Linked DNA regions of Homo sapiens. The protein of the gene in region 4 purifies or fractionates together with the protein of the main gene of each other region. This does not show direct contact. Each region holds a gene or a part of one and is shown on either strand. Other genes may lie near its edges. The genes, in order: EIF5B, NAA15, PHF6, SLC14A2, IQGAP2, DDX42 and CALD1.

What was found.
Region 1: the proteins of SLC14A2 (region 4) and EIF5B purify together in Homo sapiens (affinity purification with mass spectrometry; one large-scale study listed by BioGRID and IntAct). This does not show direct contact.
Region 2: the proteins of SLC14A2 (region 4) and NAA15 purify together in Homo sapiens (affinity purification with mass spectrometry; one large-scale study listed by BioGRID and IntAct). This does not show direct contact.
Region 3: the proteins of SLC14A2 (region 4) and PHF6 purify together in Homo sapiens (affinity purification with mass spectrometry; one large-scale study listed by BioGRID and IntAct). This does not show direct contact.
Region 5: the proteins of SLC14A2 (region 4) and IQGAP2 purify together in Homo sapiens (affinity purification with mass spectrometry; one large-scale study listed by BioGRID and IntAct). This does not show direct contact.
Region 6: the proteins of SLC14A2 (region 4) and DDX42 purify together in Homo sapiens (affinity purification with mass spectrometry; one large-scale study listed by BioGRID and IntAct). This does not show direct contact.
Region 7: the proteins of SLC14A2 (region 4) and CALD1 purify together in Homo sapiens (affinity purification with mass spectrometry; one large-scale study listed by BioGRID and IntAct). This does not show direct contact.

The regions. Positions count from the first base shown.
Region 1 is NC_000002.12:99,396,389-99,399,107, forward strand, and holds part of EIF5B (eukaryotic translation initiation factor 5B), read left to right. Parts: intron 1-371; coding exon 372-510; intron 511-2,359; coding exon 2,360-2,521; intron 2,522-2,719. UniProt on the Homo sapiens protein: Plays a role in translation initiation.
Region 2 is NC_000004.12:139,343,005-139,346,504, forward strand, and holds part of NAA15 (N-alpha-acetyltransferase 15, NatA auxiliary subunit), read left to right. Parts: intron 1-1,181; coding exon 1,182-1,335; intron 1,336-3,500. UniProt on the Homo sapiens protein: Auxillary subunit of N-terminal acetyltransferase complexes which display alpha (N-terminal) acetyltransferase (NAT) activity. The NAT activity may be important for vascular, hematopoietic and neuronal growth and development.
Region 3 is NC_000023.11:134,379,812-134,383,311, forward strand, and holds part of PHF6 (PHD finger protein 6), read left to right. Parts: intron 1-3,500.
Region 4 is NC_000018.10:45,618,476-45,621,975, reverse strand, and holds part of SLC14A2 (urea transporter 2), read right to left. Parts: intron 1-3,500.
Region 5 is NC_000005.10:76,672,285-76,675,784, forward strand, and holds part of IQGAP2 (ras GTPase-activating-like protein IQGAP2), read left to right. Parts: intron 1-1,164; coding exon 1,165-1,305; intron 1,306-1,667; coding exon 1,668-1,752; intron 1,753-2,192; coding exon 2,193-2,425; intron 2,426-3,500. UniProt on the Homo sapiens protein: Binds to activated CDC42 and RAC1 but does not seem to stimulate their GTPase activity. Associates with calmodulin.
Region 6 is NC_000017.11:63,798,170-63,801,669, forward strand, and holds part of DDX42 (ATP-dependent RNA helicase DDX42), read left to right. Parts: intron 1-1,419; coding exon 1,420-1,456; intron 1,457-2,298; coding exon 2,299-2,448; intron 2,449-3,500. UniProt on the Homo sapiens protein: ATP-dependent RNA helicase that binds to partially double-stranded RNAs (dsRNAs) in order to unwind RNA secondary structures. Unwinding is promoted in the presence of single-strand binding proteins.
Region 7 is NC_000007.14:134,786,134-134,789,633, reverse strand, and holds part of CALD1 (caldesmon), read right to left. Parts: intron 1-3,500. UniProt on the Homo sapiens protein: Actin- and myosin-binding protein implicated in the regulation of actomyosin interactions in smooth muscle and nonmuscle cells (could act as a bridge between myosin and actin filaments).

The DNA.
Region 1 (2,719 bases), on a different chromosome or scaffold from region 4:
TGCCTGTCACCAGGTACTGCCTAGGTTCTAAGCCCCAGACTGTGGCTGACATCTTCAGCAGCCAAGCTCAGTGTTTTAGACTAGGAACAGAATGCTCCTGTGATGCAGCTTCTTTTGGAGGTAGGGCTTTAAAAGAGAAGAAAGCAAAGACTTGGGAAGCAACAGAATGGGGAGGAGGAGGTTAAGAACAAGGAAGAAGCGCTCTGGGCATGGGGTGGCCCTGGGCTGCAGCACCCTGCCTGCCCCTCTCCTGTGGCCGCTGGGGAAAGCTGCTTTCCTCTAATGGGAGAAGCCTGATGTTCAGCTGCAGTTTTTCTTTTTATGTTTAAGTGATTCTGTAAGCTTAAAATTCTTTTCTTTTTTCCTTTCAGGCACATAGCAGTATTTCCCTGCAAGATAAAAATCCTCCCTCAGTACATTTTTAATTCTCGAGATCCGATAGTGATGGGGGTGACGGTGGAAGCAGGTCAGGTGAAACAGGGGACACCCATGTGTGTCCCAAGCAAAAATGTAAGTTCTAGTTGTACATTCTGTGGGTCATTTCTTAAAGCACTAAATGAGTGTCCAAGAGTCGTACCAACACAGCTTTGTGCCTGTAGTTCACAGTACTGTGCTGTGTATTTAGTGTGGTCTCCACCTTCTTAACAAATGTTTCAGTGTTTTTACCTCAGTAGGAAGAAAATGTGGTAACTTTAAAACAAGCAGAGCCTGTCACCTTCTGTTGTGCTTCAGTATTGGTAAATATCAGTGCTCCATAGTCAGTGTTGACTCAGTGCTGATCTCAGTGCTTCAGTTAATTGGGGCTCCAAGGCACTTTACATTATTGCCTTTTATTTTATTTTGAAAGGTTTCAAGCCTGTGGAAAAGTTTAAAAACTAGTATAATGAACACTCATGTTTACCTTCCCTTTCTGTCAGCATACCTAAGAAAAATTAATAATATTTCAACAATATCCTATAATTTGCAGCCCTCAACATTATTTCACCAGTTATTCCAAAGATGTTTTGGTAACTCTCCCCACCAATCTGGCCCAGTGCCCTGCAAGCTGCATTGCACTGGGGCTTGTTTTGTGGCTGAGCCTCAGTCAAGAACAGTCCTCCATTCTTTTTGAAGTGTCCCTGTTGTTTTGCAAATCCCTCCTCCATTTGGATTTATCTGTTTCTCTCCCTCCCAACTAGACACAGGTTAGAATTATTGGAAAGACACTCATGCAGTTTCCCTGTGTGCCTGCCTCTTGCATGACCCAGCCTGTCTGACTGCTGCTGATGCTCTGATTTCCTGGGGAAAGTGCTAGACGCCAACCATCTCCATTAGAAACTTGCCCCTTTATAATTACTCTGTAATCTGTCTGGTACCTGGAGTTCCTAATGGATATCCTGTTTCTCAACAGCCTTTATCCCAGTGCCTTTAGTACCCACTGGCAAGCGTTGCCTAAGTCAACTATTACGTAGATGGTTGCAAAATTGTGGATATACCTGTCCCCCCATTTCTTACAAAGAACCTCTTCCCACTGACCTTTTTATTGAGTCATAGACTCAGTGGGTTTTTTTTTTTTTAATATAATCCATTACCTTTATTCTTTTGATACTCAGATTTTCTATTGTGGTCAGTAGGAGCTCAACTGGCTCCTGTATCCTTGACACACAGCAGTCTGAGCATCATCTTCCTTTCTGGTTGAGATGTTCCAGCCTCATCTAGTACTTTCCCTGGCCCAAACCTGGTTCTTGTAATGGGCAATGGCACTTAGAAGTTGTCATTGCTTTTCTACCATTTCAGTGGACTAAGCCTGGACATTTATTTGTGTTACTTTCTATGTGGCTTTGGCCTCCTAAACCAACCAGAGCTCTCCCTGTTTTCACTCTTACTCTCCTGAATCTTTTTCTCCACAAAGGAGTCAGGGTTTTTTGCCCCAAACTCTGAGATCACATCACTCATCTGCTCACAGGCCATCATTCTTAAAATTTCAGGATTGGTCCTCACTCTGACTTCATTCCCATCAGCCACTTCAAGCTCATTCCTGACTCAGACCCTTTGTGCCTGCTGATCCCTCCTATTACGGCACCTGTCACGTGAAATGGTAGAGCAAAAATAGGAAATGACATTGGGTCAACAGGGCACTTGGAATGTTTTGCAAAGCACATTATCTCCTGTCATTCTTACAACCATCATGAAGGGAATAGGGTGTTGGTGGTGCCAGCCTAGTTTACCAAAATGTTACACCGTGAGTGATGAAAGGATCGCACTGCCATGACTTTTAAAACAGGCTTTTGCTCTAGTTCTTACTTCAGCTATCCAGCCATGGCGCCTGTGATTGGCATGAATTCTTCTGCATGCATTTTAATTTGTTCTTATTTTATAGTTTGTTGACATCGGAATAGTAACAAGTATTGAAATAAACCATAAACAAGTGGATGTTGCAAAAAAAGGACAAGAAGTTTGTGTAAAAATAGAACCTATCCCTGGTGAGTCACCCAAAATGTTTGGAAGACATTTTGAAGCTACAGATATTCTTGTTAGTAAGGTAAGTATTTCAGCAAAAGTGGCACACTTTAAGCAACAGGGAATCACTCTTCTTGGGTCACCTGTACCTGTAGCTCCTTGGGCTTCAGTTTGATTGTAGAATCTGATGGGACTGGATCCCCCATTAGGGCTTGACCTCTAGCTGGGCCTTGTCTGTTGAGGAAGTTGCTCTATCAGGAAAGCAGCACCAACAGAGAAA
Region 2 (3,500 bases), on a different chromosome or scaffold from region 4:
CTAAAAAAATAATGTGCATAGTCTGGCTTACTTTTAATTTTGAAATAGTTTCAAACTTATAGAAAAGTTGCAGGAATAGCACAAAGAACTCTACATAGGGGTTCATTCATACTAAACTAATTGTTAATATTTGGTGCATTTACTTTAAAATTTGTGTATCTATTTATCTATTTTAATTTTCTTCCTTAAATGTTTGAGAGTAATTGCAAGACATCATGCTCCTTTACCCCTAAATGCTTTAGTGTGTATTTTCTAAAAATAACTGTATAGTTTTCAGTTCTCTAGATAGTATTATAGGGATAGATTATAAAAATTAGGAAATTTAACACTGATAGACTGTTATCTAATTAATCCCCAGCCCATATTCAGAATTTACTAATTGTCCTAGTTATAGCCTTTCTAGCAATTTGATTTCATTGCAGGATCCAATTAAGAATCATACCTTACATTTAGTTATCATTTCTCTTCAGCCTCTTTTAATCTGAAACAGTTTTGAAAACTTCCTTTGTATTTTATGACATAGACATTTCTGAAGAAGGCTGTGCTTTTGTAGGATGTCCCTCAATTTGGATTTTTCTGATGGTTCCTCATTCTTAGATAGAGTTTTATAATTTTGGCAGGAAACCATATAAATGATATTGGGTCCTTCTGCGTTCATTACATCAAGAGGCACATGCCATCAGTTCGTTCCATTTGATTACATGGTGAAAGTTGTATTTGCAGTTGTAAACGTATTTTTCTCTCTTTGTGTTTAATATGCAGTTTGAGACTGAATAGCCTATTGCTCATCAAACTTTCACCATCTAGTTTTAGCATTCATTGATTATGATTCTTGCCTGAATCAGTATTACTATGATAGTCGCAAAATGGTGATTCTCTTAACTCTAGTCATTCCTTGTAGGTTTATTATTTGGCATTCTACTCCTGAGTAAGAGCTTTCCCTTCTTCCCCATATTTATTGTGTGTAAGGACTTATGGATTATTATTTTATTCAACCTGTTATATCCTAATATTGTCATTATTTACTCAGTTGCTCTGTAGATACTTAAGAATTTTTTAAAAATTAGTTTTATCAACCGGATGTTATCCTTTGACTTCTTACATGTTTTTGAGTATTGTGAACAATTTTCTGATATGAAAATAAAATTCTTACTGTCAGTATTCCTTATATCCATATACAGACATCCCCTGACAAGGTGGATTATGAATATAGTGAACTACTCTTATATCAGAATCAAGTTCTTCGGGAAGCAGGTCTCTATAGAGAAGCTTTGGAACATCTTTGTACCTATGAAAAGCAGATTTGTGATAAACTTGCTGTAGAAGAAACCAAAGGTATTTTTAAAAGAATTGTCATTTATTCTAATATTGAAATATGACAGAGCAAGGCTGAAAAATCTAGTTGCTGCTGACAGTTTCATATAATTCAGCTTTTTGATGATAGGAAATCTATTTCTTACTCGTGTACTTTTAATAGTTTATGATGTGGGAAAATGTACATTTAAACAATATTGTAGATAGAGGAGAAAGTTGATTGTGAACAATGAAAAGTAGTTGAATGAAATGACTCATAACATTCTTTAAATAAAGTATCTTTGTATTAAAAATATTATGGAATTTGATCAAAACACAAGAGACAATTAGTTTTATAAGACAGAGGATGACATTTCTTAGAAACAGTTTATTAATAAACTATAGTGTATGTAGTATGTGCCAGATTTATTGCTAATAATATATATTGATGAATCAGTCTTTACTAAAATACATATAGGATATTTCTGAGAGTCTTTATGGTTAATCTGAATGTCTTCGATGACACAGAAAGAATATGAGTTCTGGAAGAAAGGGAGACCAGAGATTTGGGTTCATAATATGTAGATTGTGATAGGAGGGGTAGATCCCACTCAGCAGAGGGCTGAGAAAAATGAGTCTTAACAGTTTTAGAAGTTGAGGGCGTGATTATAGAAAATAAAAGAAGAATAACAAGTAATGAAAGGACAAGTGATTTTTTAAAAAATTACCTTCTGAAATGCTGCTTTGTCCTTGCTAGTCTAGGGAACTGAAGTTTGCTGGTTTCACATTCCCTTGGCTCACCTTGAGGTTGAACACAAAAAGTATAATATACATCCATGTGCATAATAGGTATAGCCATTGTTTGCCAGATAAACTTTTGTCGGAGGATAATGGTACTGATAAGAAAAACTGGAATTCTAAGACTTCTGGAGGGAGCTCTCTTGTGAACTGCAGATCCAAGACAACCTTCTTTCATTTGAAGTAGTCATTCTTTAGTAGTCTGTTAATCACAAAGGAAGGAAATTTCTGACTTGCTGGAAAGATGGCAAGTCTGGAAAAAACTTGTCTCATTGGCCACTAAATAGCTCTGTGAACAGAGTCAAGGCTTGGGCCTCAAGTTTCTTTATGGAAATAAATGACAAATTATTTCATTTGATCCCTTTGATAACTTCATTAATGAGGAAGAATGGCAGATAGGTAAAGTTAGATAAAGGACTCAGAGCTGACCAGTGGATTTTTAGCAATTTAGAAGTCATTGGTGACCTTAACAAAAGCACTTTCTGAGCTTCTGGAAGAAGGATGGTAAAAGCCCAAACATCAAGTCTATTTAAAAGAGACTGAGGCCGGGCGCGGTGGCTCAACCCTGTAATCCCAGCACTTTGGGAGGCCGAGGCAGGTGGATCACGAGGTCAGGAGATCGAGACCATCCTGGCTAATCTGGTGAAACCTCGTCTCTACTAAAAATACAGAAAAATTAGCCAGGCGTGGTGGCAGGCGCCTGTAGTCCCAGCTACTCGGGAGGCTGAGGCAGGAGAACGGCGTGAACCTGGGAGGCGGAGCTTGCAGTGAGCTGAGATTGTGCCACTGCACTCCAGGCTGGGCAACAGAGCAAGACTCCGTATCAAAAAAAAAAGGGAGTGGGAGTAGAGGAACTGAAGATAAGAAGCACACATGACTCAGTTGAGGAGTTTTGCTGTAAATGAAACAAATGGGGTGCCGGTAGGTGAAATGGGATGCAGGCTCAAAAAGTTTTTGTTTGTTTGTTTGTTTTTCATAGCGTGTATTTGTGCTGACTGGGGAGTGATCCAATAGAGATAGAATATTTGATACAGTAGAGAGAATGTCATGTGGTAGATTGATGTCATGTGAAGGATTAATTTAGGTAAGAACATGAATAGTTCACATCAACAAGTAGTGGTGGTGTGTAAGTGGCGGGCAAGTAAATGTGTAGATGTAATGCATATTTTGGAGTTTCCTCTAATTGCTTCCGTTTTCTACATGAAATAAGAAATAAGGCTATCAGCTCATTCCACAAAATATGTATTGAATACCTACTTTGAGTTAGGTAATGGGACAGGGTGTATAAAGAGAATAGAAGGGAAGTGAGGGTAGAATCAATCTTTGGAAATTCTAGCAATCTTTAGAAATTCAAGGCAGTGTTGCTGGTAGGGATAGTTGGTGGGAGAAGATAAGATGGTCAAGATCAC
Region 3 (3,500 bases), on a different chromosome or scaffold from region 4:
TTCTGAGAACCATAGCACTATGTTTTTATTTCCTAGTCCTTAAAATAAATGCAGATATAAAAAAGAATGATACTTACTTGAAAGTGATTGTGCTGTAAACCTTATTACCCCTTTATTTATTGCTTGACATTATGACTATCCCTGGAAAATATTTCTGTATCCTGACTTGTTAGCATTTTGTCACTTGACACAGCTTGTATAGTCAGAACAAAAGCAGTTTTGGTCCCTAATGTTGAAACATTATTAACAAATGCAATGCCTAGTGTTACACTACATGAAGCAACAGCATACATCTGTCAATATTGCGAAGTTCAGTGGAGATTTAATTTATTTGGACCTTTTTTTTTTTTTTTTTGACAGAGTCTCGCTCTGTCGCCCAGGCTGGAGTGCAGTGGCGTGATCTCGGCTCACTGCAAGCTCCACCTCCCAGGTTCACACCATTCTCCTGCCTCAGCCTCCCAAGTAGCTGGGACTACAGGCGCCCATCACTGTGCCTGGCTAATTTTTTGTATTTTTAGTAGAGACGGGGTTTCACCTTGGTCTCAATCTCCTGACCTCGTGACCTACCTGCCTCGGCCTCCCAAAGTTCTGGGATTACAGGTGTGAGCCACCGCGCCCGGCCTTGGACCTATTCGTTAAAGCATCAGAACTTTGTATGAGTTTTACTATTATAAATTGTTTTGATTAATTTTTAGTGTTATAGTGTAGGGAGATAATTTTTTCCCCAAATGTAGTGTGTTACAAATAACGAAATTTGTTCCTTGATCTAGGGAATGGAACAATACTGGGAATTGAGAACACAAGCTTTAGTGACAGACTTGAGTTTGAATCCCAGCTCTGTCATTTACTAGCTAGGTGATCCTGATTAAGTTATTTACTTCTCCAGGCCATGTTTTCCTCACCTGCAAAAGGGGTTAGATAATGACAGTACTTGCCTCCCAGAATTATTGCCAGAATTAAAAGAGGAAGTATATAGGATTTAAGGTGGTGCTGGGCACATGGTTAGGACTTGATAAATAGTAGCCACCACTTATTGTTTTTGTTTGTTTTTGTTTTTGAGATGGAGTCTTGCTCTGTTGCCCAGGCTGGAGTGCAGTGGTGCGATCTCGGCTCACTGCAGCCTCCACTGGGTTCAAGCAATTCTCCTGCCTCAGCCTCCCGAGTAGCTGGGACTACAGGTGTGTGCCACCATGCCTGGCTAATTTTTAATTTTTTTTTTATTTTTAGTAGAGACAGGGTTTTGCCACATTGGCCAGGCTGGTCTTGAATTCCTCACTTGAGACCGTCTGTCCGCCTCGGCCTCCCAAAGTGCGGGGATTCCAGGTGTGAGCACTGAGGAATAGTGGCAGAAGGGAAGAACTTTTGCTCCGTTTCCTTCCCTTAGAATGTCAGTTTAAACAACTTATATAGGGGATAGGAATGTAACATACGTTTAGGTTTGAAATAATTTTTGAAACTCCTTTTAGCCTTCAGTTTTGCTTCTTTCATTATATCATTTTTACATGATGTGCTATCAGGTAACCAAAATTCTAGATTTAAGTTTGATTCTCTACTATTCCCTGTGTCAATTTGTCTAAGCAATAAAAGGGCTATGAATCAAATAGGAGGGGGGAAAAAGAGTGAAGAGCTTAATGTAACTAGATAAACTGCATATAAACTAGGTAATCAGCTTCCCTAATTGACATTTTTTTTTTTTTTTTGAGATGGAGTTTCGCTCTTGTTGCCCAGGCTGGAGTGCAATGGCGCGATCTCGGCTCACTGCAACCTCCGCCTCCTAGGTACAAGCGATTTTCCTGTCTCAGCCTCCCAAGTAGGTCAGATTACAGGCATGTGCCACCATGCCCAGCTAATTTTTTTGTATTTAGTAGAGACGGGGTTTCACCATGTTAGGCTGGTCGCGAACTCCTGACCTCAGGTGATCTACCAGCCTCGGCCTCCCAAAGTGCTGGGATTACAGGCGTGCACCACCATGCCTGGCCCCTAATTGACTTTTTAAGGCATTTTATCCCGTGAGCCTGTTTGCTTTGGCTCCTGTTCATCTGGATTTCTAGGTGAAAAGTAGGTCATGAACACTCATTCAAAATCATCGAAAACTGGAGTACTGAACCCTGAGTGCTTTCAAGACAAATTTCAATCTGTACCTGGTGTTGACTCCAAAGTTGCTCGCTTGCCCCAAAGAAAAGAACAGAGAGATAAGGAGGCTAGGGCTTGAGGTTAAAGTGTACGTATCAACAGCCAGGTGGGTCAGAGTTGAGGATGAGAGGGCTCAGTAGAGCAGGAGGTGTGAGTGTTTGGTTTTTATGTTCTTGCTGCCACAGGCAATTTTCCAAGGTTCATGTCAGCCACAAGGATCAAAGGAGGAAAGCCATTCTGCATGAACATTTTCATCTCCTTTACACGGTCTTTAATTATATAGCACCAAGATGGACCAGGAAAAATTTGCCAGAGTACTAAGGCTTTTATGATTTGATGCCCTGTTTTTGCAGTTTAGACAGATATATATTTTTCCAGTATGATTTCCAGTTTCTACTGAAGCCATATGGAGATACCACATCTGTACCATCTATTCTTACTTAACTCCAGTCATCTAGCCAAGAAATGCAAATTTCCAAGTAAAATTATGAGTTAGCACTGCTTTTTTGAATTTAAGGAGATACTTGAAAGAAGGATATTTGAAGAATTTACCGTTTCTGGATGAAGCTAGCTGGTGAGATTACTAAGGGTATCTACTATCTACATTGGATAGCTATTCTTCTTTTTTTTTTTTTTTTTTTAAGATGGAGTTTCCCTCTTGTTGCCTAGGCTGGATTGCAGTGACATGATCTCGGCTCACTGCAACTCCGCCTCCCAGGTTCAAGCAATTCCCCTGCCTCAGCCTCCCCATTGGCTGCAATTATAGGCGCCCACCACCACGCCCAGCTAATTTTTTGTATTTTTAGTAGAGACAGGGTTTACCACGTTGGCCAGGCAGGTCTCAAACTCCTGACCTCAGGTGATCCGCCTGCCTCTGCAGATAGCTATTATTCTAATTGGTACCGGTGTCAGATTATATCACAGATTACAAGAAGAGAAAGAGTTCAGAAGGCCATTTAGTTCACCTGTCTTACCCCTATGCAAGATTTCCTACAAGCCACTCAAGATAAGATTTTTGGCCTAAGGATTGGCTGACACGTGTAATCCTAGTGCTTTGGGAGGCCGACTGGGAGGATTGCTTGAGGCCAGGAGTTGAAGACCAGCCTGGACAACAAAGTGAGACCCCTATCTCTACAAAAAAATTTAAAAATTTTGAAATGTGGCATGTTCCTGTAGACCTAGCTACTCAAGAGGCTGAGGTGGGAGGATTGTGTAAGCTCAGGAGTTCGAGGCTGTGGTGAGCTATGATTGTGCCACTGTATCCATCTAGCCTGGGTGATAAAGTGAGGTCCTGTCTCAAAAAAAAAAATTTTTTTTTGCCCTGTTTTTAAATATATCAAGAAATTGTAATTCTACCCAAGTAACCT
Region 4 (3,500 bases):
TCCTTTTAGTACTTGTAAGGTGTTGAACACTTTCCACCTCAGGGCCTCTGCAAGTGCTGGTTCATTGGCATGAAGACCTTTCCCTCACTCTTCCTGGTCAACCCCTACACTTCTGCCAGGCTTTGTCTCAATGATCACTTGCTAAATAAACCCTCGCAGATCCACCCACCATGTTCTCCTGTCACATACTCTCATGGGACCAGGTATTTTTCCTTATAGCAGATTTGTATATTTATTTGTATGGTTTCTATCTTCCCACCAGAACTTAGGTTTCATGAGGACGGTGGCCTCCTCTGTTCTGTCTATTGCTTTGACCCCAGCTCCTAGCACAGTGTGTGGCATGTAGTAAGGGTTCAATAAATAAATATGGAAGGAAGAGGTGGGGGGGAGGAAGCGACTGTGAGCAAGGTTACAGGTGACTGATAGATAGGGAACACTTCTCTGCATAACTTTACAAATCTCTGTGGATCTCAGGGATCTCCAGTGGTTTCAGAACAGCGTGGGGCCACCCACCAGCCATGCATTTTCTGCAGGCAGAACCCCCTGTCATGTCTAGCACCGTTCTCATTCCCAGGAGGAGCTCATTAGACCACTGTGAATTTTTGTGTAGGTCTGCAAATGTCATTCAGATCTAACTAACCCTGATGCTGCCATAACTCCGGAATGGAGGCCTTTCCTTGTATTCTGACCCTGTAGGTAGGGTTTCAGTAAGGGGTGGGCACACTGCCATAGAGGGGGCATGCTGGAAAGGTTTAGGAGACAGTGAAATCCGACAAGCCCCAGAACCTGTTCCTCTCCAATGCGCTCTCTCCCTCTGGTGGCCAAGAGGTGATACAGCATCCCTGGCCCTTGGTAAAAATTTCCCTCCAAGCCAACCATATGAAAAGTAAGCAGGGGCAATCAGATATCTAGACACACAATCTGCATGACACTATACAACTGGATGAACTAGATATGTTCCGGAAAGGCCTTGTGTTAAATTCAGTGGCTATGAAATCTATTAAAAGTCTAGCTGAAAAGTGGTAATGATAAAGGTTTTTCCTAAACATATTTCATGGAATCTAAGATGTTATCAGCTGTAAGATTGATCACTATTTTATGTATCATAAAGAAAGAAGAAAATGCTTCCATTCATAATTTCAAGATGCATCCTGATTTTAGAAATGTTAAAATATGAAAATAATATACATCATATAATCAAGGAAATATAGTGTTCTTTTAAGTGGTGGGGCTGAAGTATACAGGTAGGAGTTGAGAATGGGTATACTCAGAAATTATTTCCTAACCGTAAGAATTTAAAGATTTTTATATTTCTTTTGATGAAAAAAAAATGTGTCTACTTTATAATCCCTGTAAGAACAGGGGCCATTACCTTGTTAATTTCTGCATTTATACCACCCAACAGAAAGCCTTACACCTAAAAATCCCTTTATTATTATTATTGCACAAGGGAAGTTCTTTCTAGGGTACTCTCCAAAAAGGTACTCCACCTTTGAGTCCCTTCTGTATGCAGACAATATTTCCATTTACAGATAAATCATGTCCTTGAAAAGCAAAATAGGAATTGTTTCTCATGTGTATGTTGCTCTCAGCATTTTCCAGAGCAAGCTCACCTCATTGTGACATTTGCAGGACCCAGAAAATGAGCAGTTTGCTGCAGAGTCAAGGTTAGACCCAGTTCCCCACTGCGCTCTCCATTACTCTGACTGCCTGGCTGGGCCATGCACAGCCGAGTGGCTGGCCCTTGAGCGCCTGGGTCCAGGGCCTCAGCCCGCTGTTGTGTTTCTCAATCCTATGTATCCTCTGCAGGAACAGGGCCTTGCACCTCCTCTAGGGAATACAGCGTTCCTTTGCCACGGGAATGTTTACTCTGTTACAACGGGGAATTTTGGCTTTGGGGTAGGGGGCGAGACATGCAGCACCAATGGCCCTGTGGAGAGCAAGTCTCCGCATCCGGAAGGAGCACAGGCTGTGAGGTGGGGCTGCTCCTGCCTCCCTGCTCTGCCACTCGGGGCCGCGTGGGCCTCCATGTCTCCGAAGGGCAACGTAGGCTTCTCAGGACAGTGAAATTGCTGACTTGGTTCCTGGCACATAGTAGGCGCTTAGTGATCTTACTTTTCCCTCTTCTCGTGCTCCCAAATTGAAGGGAGAGAGGGTGGGAGCAGCCAGATGAAGTACAAGCTGGCTGGTGTGAAACGGAACAGCTTTCAAAAGTTTCCATAAGGCGTCGCCACTTGTTAGAACTGGATGTGAAATCCCTGCCCGAGCCACGTCCGGGCTGAGGGCCTCAGCCCGTTCCCAGCTCAGCTCAGCGCCAGTCCATTAAACCTGCTTCCAAGAACACATAATGATCTGCTTGGCGCACTCAGACTCTCCTTGGCTGCCCACACCTCCTCTTCTCCTTCAGAAATATGGACAGAGAGGCTGTTTGGATCAGTCCCACGTCTCTCCAAAAACCAGGCCTCAAATGTCTGGCAAGGGGCTCCCAAAACAGACCAGCTCCTCCATCCTCTTTGTAAGAACCCTCCTTGTTGAATATCTACCGTTCGCCTGTGGGCTACCCTGGAGGGATCATTGCTGGAAGGCCCAGTCCTTGCCTGCAAAGGGCTCACATTCGAGTGCCCAGGAGAAGCAGTGAGCAGGCACTGTGTCCTGAGCAGGAGGCACAAGGGCAGAGGGCAAGAGGGCGGTGCAGAGAGCACAGAGCGGCTGCCCTGCCCTCCCAGCCCTGGGGAGACTGGGCTCAGCTTCCATGTCAGGACTTGGCTAAGCAGGTGAGAAAGAGGAGCACACTCCAGAGAAATGCCTGAGAAAATACATGGTTTGGGCAAGCAAGTCCCAGCATGGACTCTGCTACAGCATGGGAGAGATGTCAGCAGGCAATCAAAGACAAAACTAGGGTGTGAGAACCAGACTGTCAGGAGTCCTTAGTGTCTAGGTTTGGACCCAAATTCTTCCAATGGTTAGAAAAACTGTGGCTCCTGCTCTATTGTACTAATTTTGAAATTCTTTTCCTGATTATTTTCTCCTAAAGATCATCCATCTCCAGTAGAATTGCAGAAACACGCCCATGCCCAGTGAAGAGGGGCTGTGCCTATTTCGTATGCTCCTGCTGCCCTGGGATGTAAGGGGCCCATGTTCAAAGGGATTTCTTGAGTTGTTGGTGTGAATTAGTGCAGAGTCAAAGCTCTCTCCCTATCCCTAGTCTCTTGGGCTTAAGTATACCAGTCCCCTGGTCATCTGGGGATGAATCTCAAATGGCCCCATTTACTACTTCTTTTTTTTTTTTTTTTTTTTTTTTTTTTTGAGACAGAGTTTCGCTCTTGTCACCCAGCTTGGAGTGCAATGGTGCAATCTCGGCTCACTACAACCTCCTCCTCCCAGGTTCAAGCAATTCTCCTGTCTCAGCCTCCCGAGTAGCTGGGATTACAGGCGCCTGCCACCACGCCTGGCTAATTTTTGTATTTTTTGTAGATACGGGGTTTCACCATGTTGGCCAG
Region 5 (3,500 bases), on a different chromosome or scaffold from region 4:
ACGTACTTTTCTTTACAGTTACCAGGCAAGTAACTTTAAGGTGTAAGGTTTAACAATCCAGGTTGGATTGGCTTATTCTGGGTGGGTGGTTGTAGATTTAAGCAACCCTAGCTTCTTGTTTCCTGTAAAAGGATGTCTGTGAAATAAAGTGTACACAGAGAATTATGTAATTATGTGGGTGGTTGTTACAGTACTGTTTGTAATAATAAAAAGTCAGGAAAAGTCAAAATATTTAGCTTTGAGGGATTTGTTAAATAAATGTTTGTATAGCACATAATGGAATAAGTATTTGGAATCGTGGTATAGATATACATTTGTTGGCACAGAAAAAAATGTTCAGGGTATATATTCCAGTTGGAGTTAGGTGCAATAACCCATTTTTCTGGGAAAAGAATGCTCATTACATACGCCACACAGGATCTGTATAGAATGTCGATTACACAAATTGCATTACACCCATCAATATGCGAGGCCCACAGACATACATGCACAGAGGAGATTGGACAGTTATGCACTAAGGTATGAAAATTGGTTGTCCCAAACACCGCATATTCTCACTCATAGGTGGGAATTGAACACATGGACACAGGAAGGGGAACATCACACTCTGGGGACTGTTGTGGGATTGGGGGAGGGGGGAGGGATAGCTTTAGGAGATATACCTAATGCTAAATGACGAGTTAATGGGTGCAGTACACCAGCATGGCACATGTATACATATGTAACTAACCTGCACATTGTGCACATGTACCCTAAAACTTAAAGTATAATAATAATAAAATAAAAAATAATTAATTTAAAAAAAAGAAAAGAAAATTGGTTGTCCTCTCTGGTATTGTTTTAGATTATATGTGATTTTATTTTTCTGTAATGAACATTTGCTTTTTATAATTAAAAGAAATTTAGCTGAGTCTAAATTACCTGGGTCTGCCTCTTATCTTGCCAGAAGAGACCAGAGGGAAGGCCTCAAGTCCTTCCTGTTCCAAGTTGCAGAAGGTACCCTCTGTGAAGGTGGAGCCTCCCCTCATTTAGTAAACATTTTGTTACTGGAGTCAGTGGCAAAGTCCAATTCACTATACAAAGCTTGACTATAGAACCAACTTGGCAGCAAAATTAATGCTTGTACCTAAGCCTCCAGTTAATTTAAAGCCTTTGTGTTTTCAGCAAGTTGCCTTATGATGTGACCACAGAACAAGCTCTAACATACCCAGAAGTGAAAAATAAACTGGAGGCTTCCATTGAGAACCTGAGAAGGGTCACCGACAAAGTCCTGAATTCTATCATTTCTTCCCTTGATCTACTGCCGTAAGTTGTACTTGCAGCAAGTTTAACATTCTTTCCTGGAACGTTCTTGGAATACGATGTAAAATAAGCCCCTGTAGTGAAGACAGCAGTTTTCCCTTATATTGTGTTTACTATTTTAAAAGATTGCCTACATTTACCTTTTAAATTCCTGACTGTTCTCTAAAGAAGGGGCAATACTTCAGTAGCAAACACAGCTCAGTTATTATCATCAGTGGAAGTCCTGTGATTCCATTACCATCTCATCTTATGTTTAATTTTTAGAAAAACTACTCAGCTGAAGTTGACTGGAACAATTGCTGTGTGTTTTTTCCTCACTCCGCCTTTTTTCCATTATTTTCTTTTGTCATCTGTTTTATATGTAGTTATGGATTGAGGTATATAGCCAAAGTACTGAAGAATTCGATCCATGAGAAATTCCCCGATGCAACAGAAGATGAGCTATTAAAGGTAGATTTTCAAGGGTAATCTCACCATAGCTTCTCCTGGGGGTATGAATCAAAATTACCAACATATAACTTTGTAAGATTATTCCCCATGTATGATTATTTATAATAAGCTGCAGGTCTTCTGTTTCTAATGACTCTCAAGATAATTGATTAAGCTGAGGTTAATTTGGAGATCCTAGACATTATTGAAATTCTTTGCATTAGAGCATTTTGGGGGCAATGAGCATTTTTTCATCAAAAATAACTTTGCAAATTATGCTATTAATAATGTGTGATTATATTCATTGCCTTTATTAAACTCCTTGTTAGGATTTACATCAGAAAATGATCTGCTTTCTCTTGGGAAATGTAGGAGAATATATATCTTTAAAAAAAAAAAGAAAACTAAAACTCTTGAGTTTTCTCTCTTAAAAATGGTCATGCACTTCTGCGTCACTCCAGATTGTTGGAAACCTCCTGTACTATCGGTACATGAATCCAGCCATTGTAGCTCCAGATGGCTTTGATATCATCGACATGACAGCTGGAGGTCAGATAAATTCTGACCAAAGGAGAAACTTAGGATCAGTGGCCAAGGTTCTTCAGCACGCAGCCTCCAACAAGCTGTTTGAAGGAGAAAATGAGCATCTCTCATCTATGAACAATTATTTATCAGAGACGTATCAGGAATTCAGGTGAGAGGGGCCCTTAGTTTTGGAGAAACGTGCAAGAATGGTAGGCAAGAATAATATGTGCTCTGTGCCCAGAGCTAGAGTGGGCATGGAGGACAGGAACCCCAGGTGGTTACAAGCATTTCTTCTACCAGCCACTGGGGAAAGAGGAGAGAGGGAAGTGCAGGCAAGATTGCCTCTGTCTGGCGATCCTATCGCACCCCCACCACAGCACTCCTATTACACTGAGTCTTTTCTGTGTGTATTATTTCTGCTGCTGACAAAATGGCATACTTGTTCTTCCTTGTATGCTACAGGCTTCCAGTACCTAGAATTTAAAAATCAAAATAGCAGATTTCTGCTTCTTTCAACTTAAGAAGAGAGGAATCATTTTTAAAAAGTTTTCCGGTGAGGAAGAACTTGCTTATCTACGTCAGATACATTTGACCCTTGATTAACACAGGTTTGAACTGCTCGGGTCTATTTATATATGGATTTTTTCAACCAAAGACAGAGAGAAAATACAGTATTCATGGGATGCAGAACCCACATATACAAACAGATGACTTTTCACATACATGGGTTCCACAAGGCCAATTTCAAACTTGAGTATGCACAAATTTTGGTGTGTATGGGGGTCCTGGAACCAATCCCCCAAACATACCAAGGAACGACTGTAGTAGGAAATGGAATACTTGATTTTGAAAGGTTAGGAAAACCCAGATTTTATATTTGTTGATGATTGTGTATGTGAATATGTTCTGTTCTATTCTCAAGCCTTTCTTAATGACACATGTAAGAAGATTTAATTCTATTGATTTTGTGTTTCCAAATTATATCACTAATCATTAACAAGAAAGGCATGAGTCTGGTAGTCAGATTCACTCCTCCTGGAGCTCTGAGGAAACACTTTCCTCTTGTCATGTTTGTTCTCATGTCTGCCATTTAATCAACAGGCCATAGAAGTGTAACATCAGTTTGGCCTCTTTTAATCCTCACTTGGAAACTCATTTCTCATTCCTCGGTCTCCCTTGGAGTGAGTGACTTACTAGAAAACAAAGGTAGTTCATGATTATTCATTTCTATTTAGAATTTGTGG
Region 6 (3,500 bases), on a different chromosome or scaffold from region 4:
AAAGTTTATAGAGAAAAAATATTGACGTACACTTGTGTACTTTACTTGAAGTTATTCCTGTATCTTGAATACTTTAAGAATAGAGATGGCAACAGTCTTTGCATTTGCAATAATTAAAAAGCATTCAGTTTGGTAGAATAGTATTTGGTCTTTGACTATAAATAGTTGTTTAGTAAACACAAGGAATGAATTATAGTAGAGTTTAGGGGAGCATAATTATTAAAGTTTAGGCTCATTGTTCTGAGTTTGTCGCATAATTAATATAAAATAGGTTTATGCCTATATGGTTGATTATGAGAAGTAATGGCAACTGTATCATGAAAACTATGTATAGTTGAACCTTTGAACAACACAGGTTTGAACTGCGTGAGTCCACTCATGGGGATTTTTTTCAACCAACACAGGTGGAAAAATAATATTCACAGTATAAAAACCTGTGTATAAGGAGGGCTGTAATAATACCTAATTTTATTTAGCTCCAGAGTGACATTGTGCTGTAGCAGCCATAGTCAGAACTTGAAGTACTTTATTTTCTGGGAAAGAGAAGTCTCTTTGCCTTGATGAATAAACTCCTAAGGCTTTTTCTGCCAGTCATGATTGGACTTTTTTCTCCCTGTGCTTGGCAGTCAGTGCTTCAGTCCTTTACCAGGGTTTCTGTTCCATATGGAGATTTAGCTGTGGTTTTGGTATTCACTGTATGTCATATCCCCTTCCACCTGCCCTGCACTGGTGGTGTTGCTTGCCGGTTGCCTTAGGAATAGCAAGCGCTCTAGGTTAGGCAGAAAGTCTGATTAGAAACAGATGGTTGTGGGAACTAAGCAACCATATTTTCTCTATAGCTCCTGAGACATACAGCAAGTGGTGATGGTCCCCTTCTCCATGTGAACTGTTTAAGCGTTTTATTCCCAAACTCATAAAGGAGTTAATGTAGTTTTCACTCTGTCCCCATCCCTAAGGTAACTGCTTTTGGCTGAAAACCATTTACCCTAGAGCTAGAAACTTTGGGGACAATAAGAAGGTTGTGACCTTTCTAGTATATGCCAAATACAAGATTTTTTTTTTCTTTTTAGTATGAAATACTTTTCACAACCGCATTGTTTGTTGTATGGATTCACAAAACTAGGACCATTTGGTATCTGTCTTCAGAAAGTTTTTACGTCTGATATCCTTGTTGGTAACCGCTGTTTCTAGGGGTATCATATCATCCCATTTAAAAGAAATGCAAACTGCAGATTATAGAGTGCAGCTACACATATATATAATGGGGTGGATAGTTTATAGTGTGCTCATTGCTGCTTTGTTATTATTAGTGTTGAGAGTTCCTGTGCTGTGTGGAATTCAACACTAATCTGCTGTAAGTATGGAGCTGGGTATGTGGAACATTTGCAGGGAAGTTTGTTTCTCCGCTTGTTTTTCCAGGGGTATTCGAGATGACATTGAAGAGGAAGATGACCAAGTGAGTTCCTATGCAGTATTTCTATCTTTTATTTTTATCCACAAAGTCTATACTGGGGACAAGCTAGAGCTTGCCTTCACTCAAAATGGCCATTCCTGACATTCAGCAGGGAATGTCATTTGATTTGCTCCTTTTGTACCTGTGTGACCAATTGGTAATACATAGATTCACATGGCTTTCCCCCATATTGAAGATGGAATTTTTGATCAACTGTGACATCCAAAGCAAATACGAGCTTTATTCAGCTTGCTTCTTTTTAAATCCAAAATTAATGTTTATTCTGATAAATCAAGTGGTAGAGTAGTGTGGGATCTATTGATGGCCTCTGGTAACATCTAACCTCTGTCTCTTAGTAAGTGTCCTGTTTGTGGTTCTTGTATTTCAAGCTGGAACATTAATTACTGTCCATTAGTCTCTTTTCCCCCATTGTTCAGTTGTGGAGTGATGAGAATCAGAGTGAGTGGTAGCCGTTTCCAGGTTTGTGACCTTTCTAATTAGCGTTAACTTCCAAACTTGGATTGTTAAAGCCACAGCATGTGTTCTATGGCTCTGGGCAGGGTTGATAGACACCCCACTCCAGGAAGGCTGTGGAACAGACAGATTTGTAAGTCTTCTATTAAACAAGTTGCAACATTTAATAGTACTAACTGTTTAATTCATTTCTTCTGATTGTTCTTCTGAATATTGCTATTATTAAAGGAATCATTGCTAGTAAGGATCTTGCCTTACTTGGTAGGTATGTTAACTGTGCAATTATCTGGTACACTATGTGCGCTAATTACAGGAGCAGAAACATTCTCAATTGTACTTGGGTGTGATTATGTTCTTGTGCTTTCCTGCAGGAAGCTTATTTTCGATACATGGCAGAAAACCCAACTGCTGGTGTGGTTCAGGAGGAAGAGGAAGACAATCTAGAATATGATAGTGACGGAAATCCAATTGCACCTACCAAAAAAATCATTGATCCTCTTCCCCCCATTGATCATTCAGAGGTATGGTGTTTCTTGCTGAATTTTACTCTTGTTTCAAGCTGATGCTTTACTTCAGCTTTAACATTTAGATTTTCTCAGTAGTGGAATACTCTTACATCATGAGCGTATGCATCTTGTCATCTCTACTAAGTGGTTGAGCCACAAATTCCATGAGGCTTTATAGCCTGTTTTGTTCAAAAGTATAACCAAATCACTTACATTTGACTTTAGAATTAAAACATTTTTTTCAAGTAATTGTACTTGTTTTCCAGAACCAATATTTCTTTCTTTTCTTTCTTTCTCTTTCTTTCTTTTCTTTCCTTCCTTCCTTTCTTTCTTTTCTTTCCTTCCTTCCTTTCTTTCTTTTTCTTTTCTTCTTTCTTTCTCCCTTTCTCTTTCCTTTTTTTCCTCTCTTTCTTCTTTCTTTCTTCTCTTCTCTTTCTTCTCTTTTATTTTCTTTCTTCTTTTTCTCTCTCTCTCTGTCTCTCTGTCACCCAGGCTGGAGTGCAGTGGCACAGTCTTGGCTCTCTGCAACGCTGACTCCTGGGTTCAAGCAATTCTGCCTGCCTCAGCCTCCTGGGTAACTGGGATTACAGGTGCCCACTACCATGCCTGGCTAATTTTTTTTAAATATTTTTGGTAGAGATGGGGTTTTGCCATGTTGGCCAGGCTGGTCTTGAGCTCCTGACCTCAGGTGATCCCCCTGCCTCGGCCTCCCAAAGCGCTGGGATTACAGGCGTGAGCCACCGCACCCAGCCTTGACATCTTTCTTTCAAACTGGGAACGTTTTGGCCTGTGTTTACTGTTTTTGTTGTTGTTGCTATATTGCCCAGACTGGCCCCAAATCCCCTGGCTCAAGTGATCCTTTCACTTCAGCCTCCTGAGTAGCTGGGACTACAGGTGCACACCACTGTACCTGGCATGCCTTTATTTTTTTGTTTATTTTTTTTCCAGACGAAGTCTTGCTCTATTGCCCAGGCTGGAGTGCAGTGGCGCAATCTTGGCTTACTGCAGCCTCTGCTTCCCAGGTTCATTTTTAGTAGAGATGGGATTTTACCACGTTGGCCAGGCTG
Region 7 (3,500 bases), on a different chromosome or scaffold from region 4:
TCCACAGGAAATCACAGCCAATAGCTGACCATTTGTAATTGAGTGTCTATCATGTACGTGCAAAGCAGTTTCAAGATATTACTTCTAGTAGTTGTGACAACTACAAAGTGGAGGAGAAATCATCCCCATTTTGTAAGTGAAAAAAGTGGTAAATTTGAGATTCAAACTCAAGTTCTCCTGACTCCAAAGTTTGTTCTCAAATAGATCTCAATTCTTTCTAGAGCCACATACAAAAGAGGAGTCTCAGTGACGTGGAGTAACTAGCAAGAGGCAGCATAGCACAGTGGTAAAGAAGGTGGGCAGTGCCTCCAGATTATCCCGGGTTTAGATCCTGACCCAGCTACTTACTAGCTGTGGGACCTTAGCTATATTACTTAATCTAATCGTAACTCAGTTTCTTCATCTGTAAAATTAGCTGTTATGAAGATAACTTATTTTATTTTTACCTAATAAAAATCTACATGCTACTTAGCATGTGCCAGGCACTGTTCTAAACACTGAACAATGATACAATTCATGAGGAATCAATGAGCTCCAACATGAACACTGGCTTCAGGTATTTTTAAAGTAGAAATTGTAGACTTTTTTTTTTTTTTTTTTTTACTTTTTGTTTTTTTCTGAGACAGGGTCTCACTGTGTCACCCAGGGTGGAGTGCAGTGGTACAATCTCAGCTCACTGCAGCTTCGACCTCCCAAGCTCATGTGATCCTCCCACCTCAGCCTCCCAAGTAGCTGGGACTACAGATGCACACCACCATGGCCGGCTAATTTTTGTATTTTTTGTAGAGGCAGTGTTTCACCATTTTGCTCAGGCTAGTCTCAAACTCCTGCCCTTAAGCAATCTGCCTGCCTTGGCCACCCAAAGTGCTGGGACTACAGGCACGAGCTACCACTACCAGCCTGACATTTATTTCTTTCACTCATTTAACTCATTTATTAATACTATGTGCAGGACACAGCACATTTTTAGGTTCAAATCACAGCACTGAAAAAGCCAAACAAAGTCTCTACTTTCATAGAGCTTATGTTCTAGGAGCATGAGAAATAAATAAGCAAGCAAACAAACAAATATGCAATCATAAGCATACATTATGAATATGCATGTAACTGAACCACAGAGGTATTCCGCTTGGCTCTCCAATGCAGAGGCTAATTTTACCACCGCATCCCTTAGGGTCAGTGATGTGCTAGTCAATGTTTAGCAACAAGTTCTTGGGTGAGGGGAGGGGAGTCTGCTTTGTAGCATGGGCTGATTTCTGTGGTGTAATTACTTCCATCATGGTCAATTTCAAGTTCTGAATATGACATCACTGAATGAAGAATTGGGAGGAGAAGCTCAGTTGCACAGCATTTTATACAGTATTTCCACCATATAGCCACAATAGATGTAACTAACCTCAAGAGAATAGATAATAGTGAAACATAGCAAAATAATTAGGAAGAGTTTTGAGTATTTATTATCTTGGCTCTTCATATAATGTGTTTAATTGTAAGTTTATATGATTTAGTTTTTATAATGGCTGTGTTTTACAACTGGCTCTCAAAATTCTCGAAAGTTTAACAATGAGCTTTTGGGAGCCAGTATGAGTTTGGGGTGCAGAGAAAGTGGGGACAGTGTTAGAGATGAAGGAGACTGAGTCCAGATGGTGCCATTGTACAGAGGTGGATTCTAATCTAATTCCTTTTTAGCTCCTCTTCTCCAACAAGCTCTGCTTCTATGTACACACGGAAGCACCTGCCCTCTAAACCGAAGAGCATGGGTACAAATATAGTAACAATTTTGACATTCTTACTAGATCAGGTCACTCTTGCAGAGAAACTTTTGGCTCTCCAATCTTTAGTGAATATAATCCATGTACTCAGTGCTCTGAATATGGTAGATTCTTCTGTGCAATACAGAGGATGTAATTCCTAACTGCCGAATAAAGGAAGAACCTAGAGATAAATTTTCTGTCCTTCTGCAAAAGCAAATTATCCCCCATCCATGCACTCAAAGTCTCCTGTCTCTTAGGGTCCACATACTTTCAAAAGGGCCACCCAGGGAAGCATCTAAACCAGGGGCTGTGATGACTCCTGCCCTAGAGAAGATGTAGGGGTGAGGGTGGAGGTGGAGGAAGCTTCTCCCCTCTTCAGGATTTGTGCATCCTCACCACAAAGTGGAAACAGAGAAAAACATCTTCAGCTTTTCCTAGGAAGCGAAATATCTGCTCAAAACCTCCTAAGAACAGAAATACTTAAAATTTTTTTTCTCCTAGATTCACCCCTCCCCCTAAGCCTAAATTTCCCTTAGTAATGATGGCTGGAAAAGGAAGTGGGAAATACCATGAGAAATTTTATTCTTGCCACATTTCCAGTCCTTTACAAAAGCAAACACTGGAAATCTCATCAGAAAAATTTGACCTTACAGGGTTGATAACTTTGTGCTTAAACTGAAAAAAAAGCAAAACTAAAGGTTTTGCTCTTCTGGCCAAACGGATTATTTGGCATATGCAACTATAATTTTTAGAAAGAAATTATTCAAAACTAAAGAAATAGGCTTCTGAGGAATAAGTAACTACATACATCTACTATCAATTATTTTAACGATAGGTGCACAGAACTGTTTCTGAGCCAGGATGTTTTATCAGAGTCACCAGGGAACTTTTACAAACTACAGATGCCTGGACCCCCTTCTAGACCTACCGAATCAGAATCTCTAGAGGATAGGTCTCAGGGATGTGTATTTTCAAAAAGCTCTACAGTTGATTCTGATTAAGATACTGGTTAAGATGCATGGGTATATAGGCAGATTGGGCAGCATTGTATAACCTAAATTTGCTAACTGTTAAAACATGCTCTCTTACTATCAGGGGAAGTAATGTGGTATATTGAAAAGGTTAACTGCTTGGAACTTAGGAGCTGTGTGTTTTGGAACTATCTTACCACTAATTAACTGGATGACTTTGGTCAAGTCACTTGGTTTGTTATTTCATTCAACAAATATTTATTGAGATTCTGCCGTGTGCCACGCACTGGGTATATACGAATGAAAAAAAAATAGAGGTTCCTGTCCTTATATATCTGACAGACCAATAAGACAGGGCAGACATTAATCGAAGAAACCTACAAATACATACATAATTTTACTTGGTGTGGCTAGGCTTTGGAGAATAAAAAATAGATCACTGGTTCATATTTTAAAAAGAATTTCTACTTAAGATCCCAAATTTCCTGTCCCAACCTTCCCACACATAATATAATTATATGTTTTAAGTCCACTCATTAATAAAACACAAAAACACAAACTTAAAAGCTACTATGAATTCAATAACTCTTTTAAATAAATTAGCATTTTATCATTATAATGTATGTATAGAATTAGAAAAATAGTAGCACATATGATGTAAGATATATTATTTACTCAGAGTAGCTTGCCAAAAGCACTTGCTGCATATACAGATTTGTTTACCTCTTGCAATGACTTTGTGGCCTCCCAGGGATCCACCACCCAGAGGTTAAAA